Homo sapiens: one gene and its partners. The main gene of each other region encodes a partner of the protein of the gene in region 5 in a complex. Each region holds a gene or a part of one and is shown on either strand. Other genes may lie near its edges.

The links.
Region 1: MED20 (region 5) and MED23 share a complex: the UniProt entries of both Homo sapiens proteins name them as parts of the mediator complex.
Region 2: MED20 (region 5) and MED18 share a complex: the UniProt entries of both Homo sapiens proteins name them as parts of the mediator complex.
Region 3: MED20 (region 5) and MED7 share a complex: the UniProt entries of both Homo sapiens proteins name them as parts of the mediator complex.
Region 4: MED20 (region 5) and MED24 share a complex: the UniProt entries of both Homo sapiens proteins name them as parts of the mediator complex.
Region 6: MED20 (region 5) and CCNC share a complex: the UniProt entries of both Homo sapiens proteins name them as parts of the mediator complex.
Region 7: MED20 (region 5) and MED26 share a complex: the UniProt entries of both Homo sapiens proteins name them as parts of the mediator complex.

What each region holds. Positions count from the first base shown.
Region 1 is NC_000006.12:131,600,676-131,604,382, reverse strand, and holds part of MED23 (mediator of RNA polymerase II transcription subunit 23), read left to right. Parts: intron 1-62; coding exon 63-205; intron 206-1,178; coding exon 1,179-1,353; intron 1,354-2,001; coding exon 2,002-2,165; intron 2,166-3,707. UniProt on the Homo sapiens protein: Required for transcriptional activation subsequent to the assembly of the pre-initiation complex. Component of the Mediator complex, a coactivator involved in the regulated transcription of nearly all RNA polymerase II-dependent genes.
Region 2 is NC_000001.11:28,331,926-28,334,345, reverse strand, and holds part of MED18 (mediator of RNA polymerase II transcription subunit 18), read right to left. Parts: intron 1-2,420. UniProt on the Homo sapiens protein: Component of the Mediator complex, a coactivator involved in the regulated transcription of nearly all RNA polymerase II-dependent genes.
Region 3 is NC_000005.10:157,139,916-157,144,209, reverse strand, and holds the start of MED7 (mediator of RNA polymerase II transcription subunit 7), read left to right. Parts: upstream 1-1,344; 5' UTR 1,345-1,390; intron 1,391-1,434; exon of another isoform or gene 1,435-1,809; intron 1,810-4,294. UniProt on the Homo sapiens protein: Component of the Mediator complex, a coactivator involved in the regulated transcription of nearly all RNA polymerase II-dependent genes.
Region 4 is NC_000017.11:40,020,854-40,023,462, forward strand, and holds part of MED24 (mediator of RNA polymerase II transcription subunit 24), read right to left. Parts: intron 2,543-2,609; coding exon 2,278-2,542; intron 1,974-2,277; coding exon 1,792-1,973; intron 1,632-1,791; coding exon 1,541-1,631; intron 1,202-1,540; coding exon 1,102-1,201; intron 1-1,101. UniProt on the Homo sapiens protein: Component of the Mediator complex, a coactivator involved in the regulated transcription of nearly all RNA polymerase II-dependent genes.
Region 5 is NC_000006.12:41,904,660-41,908,009, forward strand, and holds the end of MED20 (mediator of RNA polymerase II transcription subunit 20), read right to left. Parts: intron 2,629-3,350; coding exon 2,413-2,628; 3' UTR 695-2,412; downstream 1-694. UniProt on the Homo sapiens protein: Component of the Mediator complex, a coactivator involved in the regulated transcription of nearly all RNA polymerase II-dependent genes.
Region 6 is NC_000006.12:99,541,797-99,544,777, reverse strand, and holds the end of CCNC (cyclin-C), read left to right. Parts: intron 1-504; coding exon of another isoform or gene 505-556; exon of another isoform or gene 557-998; intron 999-1,168; coding exon 1,169-1,223; 3' UTR 1,224-2,391; downstream 2,392-2,981. UniProt on the Homo sapiens protein: Component of the Mediator complex, a coactivator involved in regulated gene transcription of nearly all RNA polymerase II-dependent genes.
Region 7 is NC_000019.10:16,618,098-16,621,804, forward strand, and holds part of MED26 (mediator of RNA polymerase II transcription subunit 26), read right to left. Parts: intron 1-3,707. UniProt on the Homo sapiens protein: Component of the Mediator complex, a coactivator involved in the regulated transcription of nearly all RNA polymerase II-dependent genes.

The DNA of each region.
Region 1 (3,707 bases), about 90 Mb from region 5:
GTAGCCCCTATGTTTATGTCAAAAATATGGATTTTTATTTTCTTCCCTTTTTTTCTCCTCAGCCTTATTCACAGCATTGCAACCAGGGTGATAAAACTTGCTCATGCAAAGTCCAGTGTGGCCTTGGCTCCAGCCCTAGTGGAAACTTACAGTCGTTTATTGGTCTATATGGAAATAGAGTCTTTGGGCATCAAAGGATTTATCAGTAAGACAGGACTTTCTGGTGTTTATAACTATTAACCCATTCATTAACTCTAAAGTTACTTTTCTAGGTCCTGGGGACACAGCAGAGAACAAGTCACCACCATGATGGAGCTTATGGAGGAGGACATTAAATAAATGAAATATACAATATGTCAGATGATACATGTTATAGAGAAAAATAAAGCAAAAAGGAATAGGAAGTGTGAGGGTTGGGGGGTTTGTTGCATTTTTAAGTAAAGTGGTAAGAAAAGGTTAATGTGCTAGGTGCCTGGGATGCAGTGAGCAGGATAGACCTGGTCCCTGTCCTCATGCAAATGGATTCTGCCTGAGGCAGCAATGCTGTCCTCCAGTGCATACGAAGTCTGACTGGAAATAAAGAAGGAATTTTCCTACCTTGCAGAAGATACATTATAATGTCTCATTTATTATATAGTTCTAAAATAATAGATACTTTCTGATATAGAAGTGTTTTTCTGATTCATGGTAATTCCAGCTTTTCACGAATACAGCATAGTCTTAATTTTAACCACAATAACTCTTCTTAGATAACTGATTGTTGAACAAAACTTTCTTGGGGGTAGGAGGAAACAAGGGCAGGTATAATACAATTTTTTGTATTAAAAAGTGAACCTCATACTTCAAAAGGTATGGAACATTAATTGTCTAAAAATAAAAGATATCAGAATTGAGAAGATTAATGTTTTTTCATATCTTGTCTCATTTTATTTTTCCAGATAAACATGATTATCAATTGCCAAATCCCAGGAAAAAAGCAAACTTGATATTATAGTTAGGATCTGAATTTTTCCTTACTGTTAAAGTAGAAAATAAGAAAATATGGAGAATATATATGTGTGTGGGCGTGTGTATTTTCACAATCAAATCTTTATATTTTACTCAATGTGACTTTCTTCAAATATCTTTTCATGCATAGCCTTTAATAATTGGTACCTTAAATTGTCTTTTTCCTCCAGGTCAGCTTTTGCCAACTGTTTTCAAATCACATGCATGGGGGATCTTACACACACTCCTTGAGATGTTTAGCTACCGGATGCATCATATTCAGCCTCATTACAGAGTTCAGCTCCTGAGTCATCTTCATACTTTGGCTGCAGTTGCACAAACAAACCAGAACCAGCTCCATCTTTGGTGAGCTCATTGAAGACCATCTTTCCTTAAGATTTATTAGAAACTTTCTTGGAGATGAGGTTCTTAATCCTTTACCTTTACCTTATAGTTTTTTTTTTTATTATTATTCATCTGTCATAAAACTTCTCTGCTTCTAAAGTATTTTGTTTCCAGTATAGGAGCAGAGTCCAGCTTTTTAAATAGAAACTGATTAAGATAGTTGAGTCCTTCCTTCAGGATCTTTGGACTGAGAATTAGTACTTCCAGGGTATTTATTATTATGTTGTAACTTAGCCCTTTAGAATGCTGGTTTTAAGTATACTTCAGATTATGGTTAAAGTATCATGTCACATTGATTTTGCTTTACATTAAAATATATTTTAGATAGAAAAATATAATTTTTGAAATGCAGTATCTCCAGGTGAAATTTTTTAGTCCTATAGGCGACAAGCCATCTTTTTCAAATGTGTAAAAAGTCACGATTTTCACTATAAAATTGGACACATTAGGTTTTTTAAACAAATTAAGCAACATTTATTCTCACACAAAAGTGTTTTTTTAAAGAAGGGATAGTCATAGATTGCATGTTTTTCCATTGTAATTAACCTTAGATTTAATTCCATAATTCTGAAATTTTTTTACATTTCTTTTTATTCTCCCAATTTTCAGTGTCGAGAGCACTGCTCTCAGGCTTATAACAGCATTAGGTAGCTCAGAGGTACAACCGCAGTTTACACGCTTCCTTAGTGATCCCAAAACAGTGCTCTCAGCAGAATCTGAAGAACTGAACCGAGCCTTGATATTGACCTTGGCTAGAGCAACTCATGTAACAGGTACGGTGAATATGTGACTACAAACAACAACAGATGAATTAAAGTGTGCCATGATTCTACTAATTACTATAGTTGTAACATACTAAAAAGATACTTTTCATTTGTTTGAAAAAAGCCTGTTGTTTTGATATCTTCACTATTTCACTCATTTATGGAAGCTCTTTTGTGTACCATCATTCTATTAATAACTGCGTTGAGCATCGTTTTCAGCTATCCATAATTTTAAAGTAGTAATACTTTAAGCTTTTTGGTCTCAGGACTGCTTTACACTCTTAAAAACAAAATTGAAATTCCCAAAGAGTTTCTGTTTATATGGATTATATCTATGGATATTTATTATATTAGATATTAAAATTAAGAAGTTTAAAAATATTTATTAATTTGTTTTTAAATAGCAATAATAAACATTACATGTTAATATATGATGTTATAAAAAAAGTATATTTTCTAAAGCAAAACTTTAGTGAGAAGAGGTGCCATTGTTTGACATTTTTGCTTCTCTAATATCTGGTGTAAAGGAAGACATAGTTTGGATTCTCATCTGCTTAGACATTTAATCCATTGAAGTTTTAGTTGAAGTAAGTGAAAAATGTGGCCTCACACAGATGAGGTTGGAAAGAGAGGAGTATTTTAATAGCTTTTTCAGATAATTGGGAATGTTCTTTGACATCACATGGAAAAATGATAGTTGCTTAAAGGTTAGCTGCAATATGGAATCCAAAACCCCCAGTAAACTTCATGTACTTTGTTACATTATAATCTGTACATCTGTTTTATACATTTAGTGGATTTTTAAATCCATGCATGTTTTGTAACTTCATGAATTATTCATTTTGAAAATACTGGTTCACTGAGTTACGTAGATCTAGCAAACGTTGACATTTTGTTTATACAGTATCAGAAAATTACATTTGTTAATATCACTGCAAAGTTTATTAGAAAAATCTAAGTTTTGGAATGCTATCATGTCGTGGTAGATACAGGTTTTCCAAAATTTCAATTTTTACTTGAAAGGTCAAATTTTATCATTGGAAAAAGTTACTATCATTTGTTTTCCTTAAAGTGACAAGCTCATTTTGTTAATTTTCAAGAAAATGTCTGCTAAATACGTAAGTCTAGCTAGCTATAGTTTTCTGTCAGACGTTCTTTCAAGTAAAATTGGAATTCAAAAAAAAAAAAGCAGCTGATTTAACTCAGTGCTCAGTCAGTCACACAAGTGCACAAGTGTTTTTCCTCAAGACACCCATCAAACTTGGAACACTAGGCATATGCTTCCCCTTTTGTTACATATGATGTTAAAAATAGGTGTCGAGATTGACACTGGCACTTTTCTTTCACTGAGTGCATGTGCTGGAGAATACAAAGCCTTTTCATCTAGTCTGGCACCACTGTTTGATTTGTGCTTAGGACCAGCAGTTTTACCACCATTGCTTTTGTACCGTCAGTGCTCATACCAAGTGAAAAAGCCTGATATCTTTTTATTATTATTTGACCTCATTGAATCTTTGAAGGGCTATTGGGGAATCCCCAAGAGGTCTACAG
Region 2 (2,420 bases), on a different chromosome or scaffold from region 5:
AACTTAAATGAAAAACCAAAACAGTTTAGTGAAGCATTTCATAAAACATACAGCCAAACATGAGATTTTACAGAAATTACACTACCAAGGTATTGTATAACGTTGTGAGAAAGTTATTTTCCTTTTCAATTTTTTTGGAATTTTCTTATTTAGCACTACAAAGTCTTTAGGCCTCTTCTAATGCTCATCTCCAGCAGGCCTGGGGCTTAGAGCCTTTAATCAGCGACAGTGTCTATCTAGAATGTAATAATACTGTTTTAGTTATGTATTTATTTATTTTTGTAGAGTTGGGGTCTTACTATGTTGCCCAGGGTGGTCTTGAACTCCTGGCCTTGGTCTCCCAAAGTGTTGGGATTACAGGCACAAGCCACCATGCCCAGCCAATAACACTATTTTGTTGTTATATATTTTAACAATTGCCTTCTATTTCCAACAAATCAAAGTCTTCCATTTATAGAAGAAATATAAAGTCTCCCCCGCTTTTTTTGAGACGGAGTCTAGCTCTGTCTTCAGGCTGGAGTGCAGTGGTGCGATCTCAGCTCACTGCAACCTCCACCTCCTGGGTTCAAGCGATTCTCCTGCCTCAGCCTCCTGAGTAACTGGGACTACAGGCGTGTGCCACCACGCCCAGCTAATTGTTGTATTTTTAGTAGAGACAGGGTTTCACCATGTTGGCCAGGATGGTCTCGATCTCTTGACCTCGTGATCCGCCTGCCTCAGCCTCCCAAAGTGCTGAGATTACAGGCATGGAGCCACTGCACCTGGCTAAAGTTTCCTTTTTATCAGGAAAAGTTTTCCTCTTCTGTATGTAAGTAGAAGAGAGTGAATTGCTTCATAGAATCTTCATCCTCTTGGCAACATCTGACATAATTGTTACAGTAGATTATACCCACTATGAAATCTATTCTTCCCTTGGCCTCTGAGACACAACTTTCTTGTCTTCACTTAACTTGCTGACCATTCCGTTTAAGTCTTCTTTGCTTGGTCTCTCTCATCTTCCCCAAACACTGGAGGACTAGGACTCAATCCTGGTCCTCTTCTGTATCAATACTCTTTTCCTGCCTAGGTGACTTTATTTGGTCCCATGGCTTTAAATATCATTTAGGCCCTGAGGACTCCCACGTTTTTATCTCTGAACTACAGATGAAAACATCCAACTTCCTACTCAGTTTCCTCACTTGGATGCCTAACAGACATCTTTATCTTAACATGTTCAATATCAAACTGTTGATTTTTTCCTCCAAAATCTTATTCACCCTACAGTCTTCAACATCACAGTAAATGGCAACTCTCTGTTTTTAGTTGGTTACCCAGGCCAAAAACCAGAAAATCATCTTTGACTCACACCCTCTTTCTTTCTCTCATACCCTCCATTGAATCCGTATTTTTGAAATAAATGCAGAATGCAATCACTTCTCACTCATCTGGTCACTTCAACCTAGTCCCTTCAAATGAAGTCACCCTCATTTCTTGCCTGGTCTTTGCAATCGCCTCTTTCTACCTTTGCCTTCTTCCTCTCTTCTCCATATGAAAGCCAAATGGTCTATTAAATTATTGGGCAGATAATAACACTCCTCTACTCAGGACACTACAGTGGCTTCCTGTGTCATTCAGAATAAAAGCCAACATCTTTACCGTTGTCAACAAGGCCCTACATATTATGGTCTCTGCTACCTGCCAAACATCATCTCCTTCTATTCCTCCCCTTGATCATTCTCTCCAGGAGTGACCTTCCTGCCACACCCCTTCTCCTATTCTCTGTGCTTAGGATGTTCTTCCCATCTGCATGTCTACTCTATCACTTTTGTCAGGTCTCTGCTCAAGTGACTTTATCATCAAGGCCTTTTCTGATCACCCTAATAAAATAGTATGTGTCCTACCAATCTCTAGCCACTTTCCTGCTTTATTTTTATGGCATAGTTTTGTTTTTTTTTTTTAGGTAGGGTCTCACTCTGTCTCCAGGCTATAGAGCAGTGGCGTGATTATAACTCTTTGCAGCCTCCATCCCCTGGGCTCAAGTGATCCTCCCGCCTCAGCCTCCCAAGTGGTTCAGACTACAGGTGCGCACCACCATGCCCAGCTAATTTTTTTTTTTAGTAGAGATGAGTTCTTGCTATGTTGTCCAGACTAATCCTGAATTCCCGAACTCAAGCAGTACTGCAGCCTTAGCCTCCCAAACAACTGGAATTACAGGCATAAGCCTGTAACAGCTGGCTTGACATACATTTTTTTAGTCATCTTTCTGCCTCCATGGCTATGGCTCAAATGTTAGGAACATATTCAGATACTTGTTTACAAAATCTGGCTGGGCGCGGTGGCTCACGCCTGTAATCCCAGCTCTCTGGGAGGCTGAGGCAGGTGGATCACCTGAGGTCAGGAGTTCAAGACCAGCCCGGCCAACATGGAAAAACCCTGTCTCT
Region 3 (4,294 bases), on a different chromosome or scaffold from region 5:
ATCAAAGAAGTCCAGGTGAGAGATAATGGTGGCATGGCATAGGACCATAGCAGTGGGAACGGTGGTCAGTCATATTTGGAACTTTATTTACTTATTTTTAAATAGATCTAATGCAAAAGGCTGGTATGGTAGTTTCGGTGGGGTATGTGAGAAAGGAGAAAAAGGTGATTCCTTCGATTGAACATTTGCAATTGAGTAAAGTGCAACTGGGGAAAGATGTCTGTCACCACTGGATATGAGGGTCTGAAGTGCAGAGGAAACGGTGTTCCAGGGCCTGCATGTAATCATCCAGCTGATATCTGACTGAGAAGTGGTTGGAGAACTGAGTCCTGGGGCAATCCATTAATCAAATGTGCCAAATGCTGCTGACAGATGGAGTAAAATGAGGACTGGGAACGACCATTGGAAGTCACTGGTGCAGGATACATTGGGGTCAGCGGTGAGGAGAAAAGCTGGATTGGGTTATGCTCAACGTAGATGGATTTCTTCAGGAAATAAATTGATACGTGCGAGGGATTTAAAATGGGGGAGTCCGGAAGTGGTGGTTCACGCCTACAATCCCAGCACTTTGGGTGGCCGAGGCGGGCGGATCACTTCATATCAAGAGCTCGAGATGAGCCTCGCCAACACGGTGAAACCCTGTCTCTACCAAAAATACAAAAAAAAGAAAAAAAAATAGGTGAAACCCCAACTATTCGGGAGGCTGAGGCACGAGAATCGCTTGAATCCCGGAGACTGAAGTTGCAGCGAGCCGAAATCGCGCCACTGCAGTCCAGCCTGGGCGAAAGAGAAAGACTCCGTCTCAAAGAAAAAAACAACAAAAAAACCCTGCATGTCTATATTTTCGAATTTGTATGTAAGACGTCTTAATTGTATGCGTTAAATTAAAAAAGGACAAAAGGAATGGAACTACCAGCAGCGACTAAGTCAGTAAAAGAGTGGTAATGGGGAAGGGGGTGGAATATACGCAGGCGCAATAGCAAGCGTTTCTTTTGGAGGTTATTTTCGTGTCATAAATTTCTAAATTCACGTTAAGTCTTACAAGAGCATGTTAAACATTAAAACATAAGATTGTTTCTGGTCAATAAGGGGTCTATAAAAAATAAAGCAATAAGGTGTCTTGTTCAATTTTATGCCTTAATTCAAAAAGAAACGAAGAAACGGAACCCTCAGCTACGACTTTTAAAAGTCAGTAACGGGTGGATGGGAGGAGTCAAACATACGTAGGCGCAACAGCGAGGGATCGGTCTGAGGCGGAGCTAGAATTTCGTTAAAGGACAGCTCTTACAGCCAATCAAGGACAGAGTCGGTGGCTTCTTCCCGGAGGAGACCGGAAGTTGGTTTCGGCTGCAGAGGGGAAGGCGGCTACCAGTGTAAAGCCAGAGCTGAGGTAAGTGGGCGGCAACGGTTTGGGGCCGCCGCCTGTGTGCGTTTTTTTCTTCCGGACCCCGCAGCTTCCTCTGTGCTGGGCTGGGAACTGGGGAGGCATGGCTGAGTTCGGCCTCCAAAGGCGGTCTTTCGTCTTTCTCTCCCGAGTCTCTCCGAGAGTGCGGTCTCTCCGAGAGCGCGGAGGCCTCGGGGTGGACAGCCTGGAGGAGGGGGCTCTAAGCGTGGCAGTCTCGGGGCTTCCTCCGTGTTGGGACGCCGAGCCGGAGTGGAGGTTGGGAGACCTGGCGTCTAGTCCCCGCGCCGCTGTTTTTCTAAGCTGTGTGGCCTTGGGCGAGTCATTTGCCCTCTCCGGCTCTTTGTAACATGAGAGTAGCCCTCCCTGCCCTTCCTTCTTCTGGGAGCAGTTATGAAACAGCTGAGGTATGGGGGCAGGCGAGGGCGGTAGATCCCAAGCCTAATCGTCAGGTCCATCTGGAGAGGTTTTAAAAGCGACATTCTAGGGCCCATTCACAGTAGACAGAATGAATCAAATCTCTGGGGCTGGGACCCTGGAATGTCTGTCGTCTTCTGGTGAAGCTCCTTCTCCCCCAGTAGAACAAACACTAGATGTTGGATCTTGAGTTAAGAACCAGCTCTGATGCTTGGCTCTGCTTTTATTAAAAATAAGACCTCCATCACCTTTGAAAAGTTCCATCTAGAGAGACAGTAGAGAAAGAAATATAATTTTTGTGATATGCCAGTCCTTATTGTACAGTTAGATGCTTCTCGGCTTAGGGATATAAGAGAGCTTGCCCTTTGGAGCTAAAGGGACCTGGGATAAGAATTCCTGTTGTGCCATTTATTAACCTTTTGATCTGGGGCAACACTTCCCCTCATTGAGACTTCGGATCCTCACTTCTAAAATGAAATTGATAATAGAACTTAATTCGTGGGACCGTGTGGTGGCTCACGCCTGTAATCCCAGCACTTTGGGAGGCCGAGGTGGGCGGATCACTTGAGGTCAGGAGTTCCAGACCAGCCTGGCCAACATGGTGAAAACCTGTCTTTACCGAGAAATACAAAAATTAGCTGGGCGTGGTGGTGCGCACCTGTAGTCCCCAGCTACTCAGGAGGCTCAGGCAGGAGAATCCCTTGAACCCGGGAGGCAGAGGTTGCAGTGAGCCCTGATGGTACCACTGCACTCCAGCCTGGGAGACAGATTGAGCCCTTGTCTCAAAAAACAAAACTAACAACAAAAACCCCAAAAACCTTAATTCATAGAATTGTTAATGAAGATTATGTTACAGAGGCCATAAAAAATGGTACCTGTCATGTAGTTGGCCTTAGGAAAATGGCAGCCGCAATACAGGAATGCACATCGTGTAGGAAAGTACAGAGCAGCACTCCTCACCTAAAAAGGTTTGAGTGGGATGAAACGTGAGCTGTCAAAAATTGTATTTTCTGCCGGGCACGGTGGCTCACGCCTGTAATCCCAGAACTTTGGGAGGTCGAGGCAGGTGGAACACGAGGTCAGGAGATCGAGACCATCCTGGCTAACACGATGAAATCTCGTCTCTACTGAAAATAGAAAACATTAGCCGGGCGTCGTGGCGGGCGCCTGTAGTCCTAGCTACTCAGGCGGCTGAGGCAGGAGAATGGCGTGAACCCGGGAGTCCGAGCTTGCAGTGAGCCGAGATCGTGCCACTGCACTCCAACCTGGGTGACAGAGCGAGACACTGTCTCAGGGAAAAAAAAAATGTATTTTGAAGTACCAGATCACTGTTAATTCTTTGATTTTGGTAATTGTGCTTTGGGTAGAAGAAAACATTCTTGTCACGAGAAAACACACTGAAGTATTCAGGGGTAAAGGAATGAAAAACCAATAAAGCAAATGAAGGAAAATGTTAACATTTGGAGAATCTGAGTGAAGAATATGAAGTGTTTTTTGTGTATTCATGCACTTTTTCTGTAATCTGAATTTATGTTAAAAGTTTTAAAATGTCTGGGTGTGGTGGCTCACGCCTGTAATCCCAGCACTTTGGGAGGCCAAGGCAGGAGGATTGCTTGAGCTCAGGAGTTTGAAACAAGCCTGAGTAACATGGCAAAACTCTGTCTCTACAAAATATACAAAAATTAGCCGGGCTTGGTGACATGCCTGTAGTCCCAGCTGCTTGGGAGGTTGAGGTGGGAGGATCGCTTGAGCCTAGGAGGGCGAGGCTGCATCATCCTATGCACCACTGTGGCATAGTGGAAACTCAGGGCTGCGCCACAGCTGCCCTCAGTACCTCACGAATTCTAAGTATAATATTGCTTCTAGTAGGATACTTGCCCCACCCGATGTTAGAGTGTGTTATATCTTGAAACTCTGATAACACCAATCTAAAGGAGCACTTAAGGATCTTCTCATTGGATGGTATACCTAGGCTTAAGGTAGAATAAGTAGAGGTTATTATGGCCATAGATACTGGGTTTGAACCTGGGGTTTGACATTTCTGTGATAGTTGTAGAGAAGTTAATGTGTCCATACAGGCCAGGCGTGGTGGCTCACGCCTGTAATCCCAGCACTTTGGGAGGCCAAGGTGGGCGGATCACCTGAGATGGGGAGTAAAGAGACCAACCTGGCCAACATGGCAAAATCCCGTCTCTACTAAAAATACAAAAATTAGCCAGACATGGTGCACGCCTGTAATCCCATCTACTTAGGAGGCTGAGGCAGGAGAATTGCTTGAGCCCAGGAGGCGGAGGTTGCAGTGAGCTGAGATCTGAGATTGCACCACTGCACTCTAGCCTGGACATCAGAGCAAGACTCCATCTCAAAAAACAAACAAAAGTTAATGTGTCCATATAAAATTGCATAGTATACTGTGACAAAAAGGGTATGGAACTGAATCATCATTTCATTCAGGAACTTTGGATAATAATGTGT
Region 4 (2,609 bases), on a different chromosome or scaffold from region 5:
TCTGAGTTCAGGAGTTCGAGACCAGCCTGACCAATATGGTGAAACCCCGTCTCTACTAAAAATACAAAAATTAGCCAGGCGTTGTGGCAGGCGCCTGTAGTCCCAGAGACTCAGGAGGCTGAGACAGGAAAATTGCTTAAACCCAGGAGGCGGAGGTTGCAGTAAGCTGAGATCGTGCGACTGCACTCCAGCCTGGGCAACAGAGGGAGACTCCAACTCAAACAAACAAACAAACAAACAAACAAAAAACAAAACAAAAAAAGGGCACAGAGGGACCTCAGATACAGAGATCCCAATGGAATGAGAGAGAAAAACTAACATGTGGTGAGCACACAGGGCCAGGGGCCGATCTTGGTACTTCCTAAGCTGCTTACTCCTCACAACACCCCATTTACAGATGAGGAGACCCAGACGGGGGCTGGCTCAGTCGCTAGCTAAAGGTCACAGCACTTGTAGCTGGCAAACCTAGCATCTTTCTTCTGATCAAGTGTATAGTTGGTCCCCTAGTTCCTAAAAGGCTTCAGAGAAAAGTTCAGGCTCAGGAGAAATCTCTGGAAACAGGAAAAATGCCACAGAAGGAACCCTTGGCAGTAAGCCTGGCAGGGAGGAGGGGACAGTGAAAAGGATGACCTCCAGGGAAGTGGTTGGTGGGGGGTGTGCTCTTTAGGCAGGAAGGTGGGGAGTAGCCCCATGCCCCAGCCCGGGCCTCTCCGGGCATGTTTTGGGGGAAGGAAGGAAGGAAGGTCAGAGCTGGTGAGTCAATGGCACAGGCTGTGCCTGAGGCAGTGAACTCACTCACTTGGGTAGCTTGTCATCCCCTCAACCCTGGGGTAAGGGAGGGGCAGGAGGGCTGTGGGGGAACAACTGTGGGCTGGGCTGGACCTGGGCAGAGGAGCTTCAACCCTCAGGGAGTGAGAACAGCAACCTCTTCTCCAGGGGCAGGACACAGAGCACCCCCTTGGGGGCTAGAACAGCAGGTCCCTGCCACACCCTCTCTGACCAGCTGCAAAGATGCCTGCAGCTGGGGCAGCGGCAGAGTGGCAGCATCGGGGAGTGAATTCCCAGGAAAAGGAGCGGCGCGCGGCCAGCCCACACACTCACTGGGGCTCGAAAGGATGTTGGCATCGTCCTCATTAGAGCTCAGCAGTCGCATCAACTTCGAAGGCTGCACATCGTCCAGGGGGAAGAGGCTGATATAATCCTAGAGGGAGTGAAAGTCACTGTTATACACCCCTAAACCCCCCAGTTTCCAGCTGTCAGGGAAAAGAGCTTGAGCTCCGATTTGAGCGAGGTCAGCATGGCTAGCAGGGCCTCAGCCCCTCTCTGCTCAACCCCTCCCACAATCTGACAGGCCCCTTGTGCCCATGGGCAAGCTGGGGCCACACAAATCACCCATGCAGATTCCTGACCAATCATGCCCAGGCACAGCTGCCCCAAGGGCAGGGGCCACAACTGCTTCCCTTTGCCTGGGGAATCCTTAGGAAATGCTGTAACAAACCGGTGAACAAGTGAAGCCGGCGAGGGCAGCTGGGGGGCCTACCTCAATGTCTTCGCGGTGTCTCTTCTTCTGGCGGGTGGACGCCTGTCCCTTGTGGGAGGAGTAGGAACTGAGGGCACACCACACGGCCAGCCTGGCAAAGGGTTCCAGAAAAAGGGGGACAGTGAGAGGTGCCCCAGGAGCTTTCTGTGTCTGACTGGGCTCCCCAAAGCCCAGTCTCCCAGGGTGGCACCAGGCGAGGGGTGCTTGACCCTGGGTGGCCGGAGCAGGGCAAGCTCTGAAGAGAATCTTACTTGGCAAGAGCAGTGCCCGGGGGGTCCATGAGGCTGTGCCACTTGGAGGAGTCAGTGAGCAGGCCAGGTAGGATGTGGCCCAGCAGGACCAGGGTCACTTGCTGCATGTCCAGGCAGAAGATGGAGTAGAGCAGCTCCACTGCCCGCAGCGTGTGCTCCTTCCGCGTCTCCTTCAGCAGCTCCTAGTGCGCAGGAAAGGGGGCAGTTCAGGAGCCAGGGGCCCGGGATCTGGGGCTCCTACACCCTGCCACCCCAGCATGGCTGTCCAGTAAGGCCCGCAGAGGGGGCCCCAGATGTTGCTCCGCCCCTCAGGCTGAATCCCAGTCTCTGGCCAGAGCTCCCCAAGGAGGCAACTCTGAGGCGAGGCATTCCGGGGAGGCCACCTGGCTCACGGCAGCCTCTCAGGGAAGCCTGGCAGACCAGGCCAGGTGTGGGGAGCCAGGGGACAGGACCCATGTCGGCCCACAGCCACTCCAGCCCAAGTACCTTAATCAGGTTGTTGCAGAACCAGTAGACGCCGCCCATGTGCAGCAGGGTGTCAAAGATGTGGATGGAGCGGCTGTCCACCCAGCCCTTCTCCAGCACCTTGGCAAAAATGTCCGTCAGCACCTCTTTGATGGGCCGCTTGGGGGGCAGCAGGTTCCAGTAGGGCATTGTGTCCACCCCGGTGGAGGGAAACTTGATCTGCGTGGCTGTCTGCTGCAGCACGTCGGCACACATGCGCTCCAGGATCGAGTTCATGATCACCACCCTGGGGGAGGGCCGAGAGAACCTGAGGCTCAGGTGCCACTGTAGGGTGGGGAGGGAGAGGAGGGAAC
Region 5 (3,350 bases):
CTAATCCCAGCTATTCGGGAGGCTGAGGCATGAGAATTGCTTGAATCCGGGAAGCGGAGTTCGCAGTGAGCCGAGATTGCGCCGCTGCGCTCCAGCCTAGGTAACAAGAATGAAACTCCATTGCAAAAAAATAAAATAAAATAAGGGTCAGGCATGGTGGCTCACGCCTGTAATCCCAGCACTTTGGGAGGCTGAAGCAGGTGGATCACCTGAGGTCAGGAGTTCGAGACCAGCCTGACCAACATGGAGAAAGCCCATCTCTACTAAAAGTACAAAATTAACTGCACATGCCTGTAATCCCAGCTACTCGGGAGGCTGAGGCAGGAGAATCGCTTGAACCCAGGAAGCGGAGGTTGTGGTGAGCCAAGATTGTACCATTGCACTCTAGCCTGGGCAACAAGAGCAAAACTCCATCTCAAAAGTAATAATAATAATAAAAAAACAAAATAAAAGCCAAGTGTAGTTAGGGATTTTATACTGCTTTTTAGCTTTTAGGGAACAGAGTCCCTCCTTATGATGCATAAGTCTAGAGAGTCTATATTTACCACGATCAACTTCTGGAGATTTTCAGGAAATGCATTGTGTTCAAAATGCTGCCTATGCATTGTTTCATTCCATAAAAGCTGCAGCCTACAGAAAAATACAAATAAATAAACCTGGACGAGAGCAAATGTAAATCAGGAGGCCAAAAAGGTAAGATCTGTGCGTTTTATTTTTGTAAACTATATCTAAAACATACCTCAATATAAAAAACCAGAAACAAAATAACAAAAACGGGGTGAGAACAAAAAATACAGATGACAGGTTCTGTAGTTATGGTACTGAACTGAGCTTCCTGTCAGCCAAAACTAGAAGGGAAACATGACCACCACCTGACTTGTTGCAGAGGCTTTAGATCTGAGCACTTGGATCTGAAAACAGTTTCTCTTTAGATGCCTTCAAATAAGGGACAGTATCCTTGATGACAATACAGTACATACATTCACAATTCTCCAAGACCATCTCTGTGTATATCAAGGTTAACCTGGATGAATATTTCTGCAGCAGGCATGGGGTAGGCAGGCAATATGACCAAATATGTAGTTTGGAGGCTCAAATGAAACAGGAGAAAGAGCTCAGGAACCATGAAGCATGGTGCAGGTATCAGGGTCAAGTATTCTAACCCTAAGATCAGGGTGCATGAGAACTGGAGAGGCCTCAATACTGAGACTTAGACGAAAGGTGTGGAATTAACTTCCTAGTGTGACTAATCCAACTTAGCTCAAAGCGGCTCTGAGATCAGCCCTTCTCTCAAGTCAACTCATAAACAAATGCTTTAGTTACAGGAGGTATTAACTGCAAAATAACAGCCAAAAGCATTCCTGGGCACGTCCATTGAGCTCCATGTAACAGAAGCCATTAACTGCATCTCAGCAACCAAATTGTCTTTCATCTTGTAGTCACAGAATCCCTGAGTTTTAACTCAGCACATGACTGCCCAGATAAGAGGTTCTATGTCCCAGCATCTCTTTCAGCAAAGTGTGGCCACAGTGATCTGAGCAATGCTCAGTCATATCTTTTTTTTAAAATCTGCTCTTTTCTCTCTCTCTTTCCCCAGTGGAATGCAGATATGGAGCTGATGAGTCTGCTTTGATCTTATGGGTAAGAAAACATACTGGGAATGGCTGAATAAGACAGAAGGAAACAAAGTTCCTGATAACCTTGTAGAGTTAAATCTGCCCTAGACCATCTGATTACCTCTCTATTATTAGGTGAGAAAAAAACAAACTTCGATCTTATAGCAGTTTGGCCTGTGGCTTAACATATTTCACAACAGAAGGGAAAGATGTCAGAAGGAGATTTCAAAGGACTCAGGCAACACCCTAGGAAAGTCAATTCGCAAATCACTTCAGCAAACAGGTCAGAAAATAGTAACTATCAAACCAGTTGTGCCTTCTACTCCATCTCTAGGATAGAAGCCCAGCCACATCCTCTGAGGGAAGGAAGAGGCTCTTATTACAGCACAATCCAAACATAAAATGCAGCATGTTCACCATTGGCCTGGGACAAATCCTTAATAGTTGGGGATACGGACTATTTCCCCCACCAGTACCAGGCAGGGACATTCCTGTCCTACCTTTCCCCTAAAGGAGGCAAGGTCCAAACTTCTCCACTCTTCATAATTACCATTCTTGAGGACAGGCCAAATCCAGTAAGGCACGGAGTAAAACAGCTGATGGGGGGCTATGTGTGAGAGTCAGGGGGTTGGGGAGGGGACTCAGCCCCAGAACAAAAGCCACAGCTGAGAACCAGAGAAGGAGAGTAGAGTCCATGTCTACCCTGGGTTTCTGGGGTCCAGGGACCTGAAAGTCAGCACCTGCTCCTCCTGTGGAGTACCCCTGGTGACAGAGCTCAGCTGGCAGCTGCTCATCACTAACGAATCCCAGCCACCGGCACCTGCTGCTGCTTGCGGATCTTGTTGAAGAGTTCCATGTACTGGACCATGGTATCTGCTGGGCCGTAGACCGCATCATGTCTGTTCCCAAACACTGCGGGAGCCCCTGGTGTGTGGCTGCCTAGAAAACTCTGTAGGAACTCGAGCAGCAGACTCCAGCAGTCACTAGCTACCACACAGGGGCCATACTCCACCTGGGAACCAAAAGCACAGAGAATGAGGGTGAATGAAGGCTAAGACAAGGTCTGCTTCTCTTGTACCTCCTGCCTCCTGCTCCCATCTTCCCCAACCCCGAGCTAAAGACACACACCTCCTAGCACAGTATTGGTCCACAGGAAACATTCAACCTAAACACTGGGCTCAATACCCAGCATCTTTAGGCATCTTTGACCTTCTCATCCTGGAGCTGTGCCAACCCGCAGCCCTCCCAGAGGACCCAGAAGCAGATCTGGGCCCCTTTTGATGATCTCAGGACTGTGTTGTCCCTGCTATGCTGGGTAAAGATTCAAGGAGAGCTCAAGAAAATTCTAAGAGACACAACAAAGAGAAAGAGAAGGAAAATGTGTGTGGGGGTGGTAAGTAGAGAGTAGAGTGGACACATATGCTCATGAGTTTTTTTCAAGACCAAATTTTACTCCCTAAGTAGAACCAACCTGGGTTCTGACCCTAAGAAAGAATTTCCCAAATAGTGTGTCATGGGCCAAAAAATATACATCTTAGGTTTTCTCCTTCTGCTCTCTTAATTTTTTACTGGAGAGATGGCAGGGCAAAATTACTGGCAACCCTAAGGAGAAATAAGTAAAGAAACAGGTGGAGTGTGTTTCTACTACAAGATTAGAAATGTGGAGGATAAACAGCGGGTCCTCAGTGGGTCTCAGCAAATCCAAGGTCTATCACAAGCCGAAAGGGTTAGAAG
Region 6 (2,981 bases), about 58 Mb from region 5:
GATTCTGTGCCATCTTTTTTTTTTTTTTTTTTCACTGCTGGCTATTGTCCTGTTTTATAAATTTCAGTAGCAATTTTCAAAAATTTCAATGAATGATCTGATATTGTAAAGATAAAGAATTTTGGTTTTTAAGTGACCCTAAGGTCCATGGCACATAAGAATATATTTTTGCTAAAAATGAATCACCTGTGCTAAGAGGGTTTTTTTTGTTGTTATTGGGGTGTATGTGTGTGTTTTAAGTAAGATGTGTTCATTTAGTTCAGTGGTTCTCAGCCCTCACTGTGTATCAGTTCATTTGGGGCAGGGAGAAAAAGTCAGAAGGGAAATAAAGAAATGCCATCCATCTTAATTGTTTCTTTAGAAAAATGATTGTTATATAACAAGATAGATTTATGGATTGCTACTCATAAGTTAATGTTACAATTTGGAAAAAGTTAATACTTTATTCAAGGAGCTGTTTAAGGCAGTCATTCAAACAGCTACCTTTGGATGCATTTTTTGCAGAAATTCCCTGAGTGATTCTCCACTAGTGGCAGGGCCTGAAGCTGCAAGATGATGGTGGACAAGATAAGGCAATAATCCTATTGCCAAAGTTACTGGTATTTTCAGTTTTAGTTATTTTTAAGTATTCAGCATTTTTATTTTAAGTATTCAGCATTTTCCAGGAAATTACCATATTTCTTGCTGACTTATAAAGGTTTGCTGTATTTATATATGATTTTATTATGCCTTTGGACAACAGTTTTGGTTTTTTTTTTTTTTTGAAGAACACTTCTTGTTTTTCATAAATAGTAGGAATAGGATTTTATATGTAAGATTTAATTTTATAGGAAATTTGTTTAGAAGAAGCTGTAATCTCTATGTTGAGTGATACCTGTAATAACAATGAAATCCCATACCCTAATTTAAAGTTTTTGAGTATATATGGACACTAACTTCCAGAATGCTTGTTATATGTGAGGGCACAAAGTTATATAAGAATAAAAACATAAAACCAATGTTTGTTAGTCTTCTGGATTTTAATTTTTCACGTGTCTTATAATGAGGAATGTCTTTGTTTTGTATAGTTGTGCCACAGAATAATGAATTTAAAAGTCAGTAGGCTTATCAGGGTGTAAAAATGGATCTTTTAATTGGTATAAAATCTCTTTCTTCCCCATTTGAACAGTGAAGGAGAGCAGGGTCCAAATGGAAGTCAGAACTCTAGCTACAGCCAATCTTAAAACATTCCGAAGAATTCCATAGTGGACCACTTGGAAATAAACCATTGGACAGATTTCAGTAATGTCTTCAGTGGAACACAAATGAAAATGAATAGCTTGTTTCTGTCAAGCATATTGGAAAGTGATTTTATTTTTGCAAAATAAGTTTTTCTTTAATATGATTCTAGTACATAATTGATTAAAATCTCTTGATTATAAATGTTTGGAAAGGTTCTAAGGGGACCTACAGACAGACATACATAGACATTTCAAAATTAATAGCTTTTGATTAGTATAATATTTCTTAATTTGGATAATAAAAATTGTAGCTTTTTATTAAGCCAGGAAACATGAAGCATAATTTGTTTAAAATTCTCTTTGGTCATTGAGGGACCAAAAAAGGACGTAAAATTTACAGTCAATCTATGAGGGTTTTTTTCCCTCCATAAGTTTAACTTTAAAACTGTATTTAAGGAATCAAATCTTACAAAATCCTGGAAGATTTTGGTAATGATGTTGATAATTTCAGGGAAATTAATCAAGTACCTATATTGATTTAAAAGTGTATTTTATTCAGTAGTTTGAGGATCTTGCCATGGAAGATACTAGCCCAGCCTAGCAGAAAAGTGCAATATGTATAGCATACTTTGACATTTTAAACATGATAGTCCATAACCATTTTGAAATGCTGGGCAAACTACATGAAGTTATTTATAATTAATTCACAGCTAATCAGGCATTTTGAAAGCTTAATTGGATTCAAAAACCATAATGTTGGAATTTGGTAAAATTTTAATGTTGATTTTTACTGTGAAAAGGTTTTTATAAGATATACACACCCTAGTTTAATGTTGTGTCTTGGTGTGGATTTACAGATTTACTACAGGTATTCTGAACCAGGAACACAATCAGGTTTCAGGCCAGTTTGATACTGGCTGTCCTTAATTCTAATATGAGAGTAGGACATCATACTAAATGTTATGTCAGTGGGACTGTACTGTCTGTGGAACTTAGCAAATTAATCATTTTCTTCAGACTTGAAGGAGAGTGATAAATAAAATTTGGAGTCATAGGATATTGATGCACAATTTAAGGATTAAACATTTTTAATCAATTGTGGATGATGGCTTATTAAATGTTGACTTCCTAGTATAAAACTGCAAGAATAAAAGTAACTTCTCCAGCTGTATCGACTAGTGTCTTGAATTTATCTTTTTGAATTTGCCTGATGTTGTTTTTTGAGAATTCTTCTTCCTTTAGTTAAGTGTTAAAGCCTTTTATAGGTTGTCAAGGGGGTAATTTCAAATCATTACAAACAGATTTTAAATAGAAAATTTATTTCTGATGGAGCGTATCAAATGAGCTGGAAAGCGAGACTGTGTAAAGTCAGACTGATGACATATATAGGTTTCCTGGGCTTAATAAGAAAAAAAGCTCTCCTCAGGTCTGAAGGAATTAATGTTGGGCTTAGGTAAGACCTATAGTCTTTAAGTGTTTATTTTTAAAATTAATACCATGCCTCATAGTTTTGTTTTCAGTCTCTTATTGTGGAAGATTTAAAACAACATATACAGGAGTAAAGTAAGGAACCTCCATGTACCTATCATCTAGCTTCAGTAGTTATCAATTTATGGCCAATTTCATTTCATCTAAACTCCCACCCACTTTCCGTAAGTTGCCATCCCCCATCTTATTTTGAAGCAAATCCTAGATATCATATAATTTTATCCATAAATATTTCAGCATATATTCCTAAGAAATAATAGCTCTTTAAAAAAA
Region 7 (3,707 bases), on a different chromosome or scaffold from region 5:
TTACCCAGAGGGGAGGCACAGATGAGAGGAAACAGGCAGGACAATCAGACCCAACAGATCTCCCAGCCTCTGCCCAGGGTCCACAAATTCAGAGAAGCTACAGGAGGGGCCACAGCTCTTGCCTGGGTCACAGCGCAGTCTCCTCATGACCACAGGAGGCCTGGTGGGGTTCAGGCCACCTGGACCGCACCACCTCCCCCAGCAATGAGCTCCATTCCAGGCAGTGACTGAAGCACCAGGAGAGACTGTCAAGACAGGGAGGAAAAAACAGCACCATTCAAGACTGTCTCCAGCCCAGGACAGGATCTGAAGCTGCAGCTGGCCAGCACCTGCACTCGGACAGCGTGACAGCGAGGTCCCCAAGGGTGACTACAGGCAAATGGAGTCTGTGGTTTAACCAGAACAAGAAGGTACTCACAACTCCACGCGGTGACCTCACACCAGCCAAACCACCCTGTTGCTACTCTGGACCTTACATTTCCCATTTTTTTCCCCAAAAACTCCCATTTTGCCTTCTGGAGCCAAGGCCCAACTATTTGGCGGTCACATCAGGAGAGGTGATGACATCAGTGCACATCCATGGACACTGGATCCACTATTCTTCTCCCGTTAACAGGACCTTGATGTCTCCTGGGAACATCCCCTCTATTGTGGGACTGTTTGGGTGGAACCCACAGCAGATTCAGGGGTAAGCCAATCAACTAATTCAATCAAACTGCTAATCCAATCAAAGCTCAGAGAAGGCATAAGGAAACGTTTGGTGGGGCTTCCAGCAAAGAGTCGGGAGTTCGGTGAGGGAAAATCCTGAAACTGCTGGGATGGAGAGGAAGACACCCTACTGTGTGAAGGCAACACTGCAAAAGAGGGAGACAGAAAAACCAGGTCCTCACCTGACCGCAGACTTGCCTTTGGGCCTGCATGACCATCAGCCCCTTTGTGTCTAAGCTCCTGCCACCAGCACAGTGCTAACCTCCCTTTAGGGCTGGACAGGCCACAGAATTAGTATAGGAAGTAAAGACAAGTGCTGTGCAGGCAACCAATTAACACGGAAGGAAACAATGTGAACCAATGACCACCCAAAAGGATAAAACTGTTCTTATTTTATATCCCTTCACATCAGTATCACGGGTCTCCCACTGACAGCACTGAAAAGCCAGCTTGCTGACTGCTTGCCTAGGCACCATGCAAGATGCACCTGGGAGGTGAATGGAGTTGGGCAGCATCTATAAAGGGTTCTGGAGGGCTGGCCTGCAGAACAGGAGAGCCGTTAGCTACCATGGTAACTACTACATCACCCTGGGGGGAACGAGGATGTGGCCACCTCTCCATGCCTAACTCAAGCTGGGCCAGGAACCTGATGACTAGAACGGGGGACATCAAAACAAGTCATCAAGGGGATAAGAACTTAAACCCAGTGTGTGCAGGGGGCTGCCCAGAGAGCCAATGTGACCAGGAGTGTGGGTGGGAAACAGAAGAGTGCACTACCGTGCTGAAGGCACAAGCAGGCAGTGGGGCTGCCAGGGCCTGGGAGTGCTGCCAGCCCACTGGGCTCTCGGTGTGGGCCATGGGTCACACCCACCTGAGTCCTCCCAGTAACTCACCCACTGCTGATGCCTGCACCACAGAACCCCCACCAGAGTCAAGGCCAGCCACAGCCAACGCCCTATAAAACCATGCTGTGCACCCAGCACACGAATACCCGAGTCTCCACAGCAGCCACGAGGCTGACCCACCACCAGGGTGTGGCCTGGACAAAGCAGCACCCTACTTTCTCACCATAGCAAATGAAAATCTGGGGGGATGTGTGTCCAGGAATGCCATGTTTTGTCACATGACCAAAAAAGGCCGAAGGATCGCTGGGGACCCAGGCTTCACAGATGAAGTGACATTTGAACAGTGTCTAGGGACCATGGACAGGCAGAAATCTAAGATCAAGCGCCGCCTTCTCTATTAGGGTGAAAAATACCTGACGAGAAAGAGAGGAAAACACACCTCACACCCCTTCTTCAGCCAGTTCCAGAGAAAGCACAGAGCATTTTAGTGACCACTGTCCTCCCAGTCTGGCATAAGAGCAGTGCACAGATGAATCCAGCATAAACAGCTGGACCCAGGCAAGAAAGGGGAGTGCCTGCGCAGCAAGTGCCCACTGGCCTCTCACATGACAAGGGAGGCAGCCAGCAGGTGGCTGTGTTCCAACCCCAGCCTCATCCCATCTAGCCTCCTTCCAGCTGTGTCCGCTGAGCCTCAGTTTCCTCACTAGTACCTGCCTCCTGTTTAATCTACACCTGCTATGAAGATTAAATGTGTTTTGAATGCAGGTGAAGTGCTGAAAACCGCTGGCACCTAGGACCTGCTCAGTAACGCTGACAGCCATTCCCAAAACTGGCCCTGTTTACAGTGAGAGCACCAAGCATTTGGGCACCCACGTGCTGTGGCAGTTCTAGACACTAAGGGAGCAACACCTGCTCTCCTACTTGGGCACTTCACAATCACATGGAAAATGTAACCAACAAGACCTGTTATCAGCAGGAATATAAGGTGTTAAAATGATGAATGGTTCCTGAGGGAGACGGTCTTGGATTAAGCCAGGTAAGGTTTCAGAAAAGGGAGGCAGTAGGGATGACAGGAGGCTCCCAACTGGAGGCAGCACAAAGGTCAAATTCCAGGTGTCACACACATACAGGTAAGGCCTGCTCTCAGAGTTACACTGATGCTGTTTTGATGACAAGACAGAACTTCATTTCGAAGCATGACTGGATTAGGAGTAGGTTCTGTCCTCGAATTTTCTTTAAAACAGTTACTCAAAGCACACCTGTTGTTATGTGAAGCTTCCAGAAGGTTTCTGATGATAAAAATGAACCCTCATACTCAAAAAGGTTTGGAGCCACTAGGCTAGAGGAATTTAAAGGGGGAAAAGTTGTAGGAACTGGGAAGGAATGGAATTCAAAATGTAACATGTGAAAACACTTCATGTTTGCAAGGGTACACCTTGGAAGACGCAATGGAGTTCAGCTTCCATGCTGGGCACCACCGATGTGGGAAGCGGAAGACTGTCGTAGTTAAGCCCTCTGACATCAGAACCACCCAGTGATGGATTCAGACCCAAGGCTTCTGGTTCCCTTGTCTGCAATACCAGACAAATCGGTGAATCTCTCCTAGCCCCTAAAATGAAGATGAAGCACCTACCCTAGAAGTAATTCAAAGAAGCAATGAGACACTCCACACAGTAGTGTCTGGCACTGTGTAAGTGCTCAGTAAACAGCGGCTGTTCGTCTTGCAGCCTCTGCTGCCCAACAGAGACTGCTGCTGGCACACAGGAGACCGAGCCTAACTCTGCATGCAGGGGAAACCTGATGAGCCCCCTGACGTTTTCCAAGATTCATTTTCCTGCAGTGGATGAACCCAGGAAACTTTGCTGCAGTCACAGTAACATCCAAAGGCCTTTAACCCCAATTGCCTGGCAATCCTTGGGATGTGAGTTCCCAGAGGGCTGCTGGTACTTCACCTGACATGACCCCTCTCCTTTTGAATAGGCTCCACAGAGAATCGCAGAACCTCCCGGTACTTGGATGGTCACAGAATCCAAAGGCCTATACACAGAATCCAAGGGCCTGGGTATGTCCACATAGCCATCTCACAGTGCCCCCAGACTGTGTTAAGTCAGCTCTGACAATAATCCACCACTTCCCTAAGCACATCACAGAACT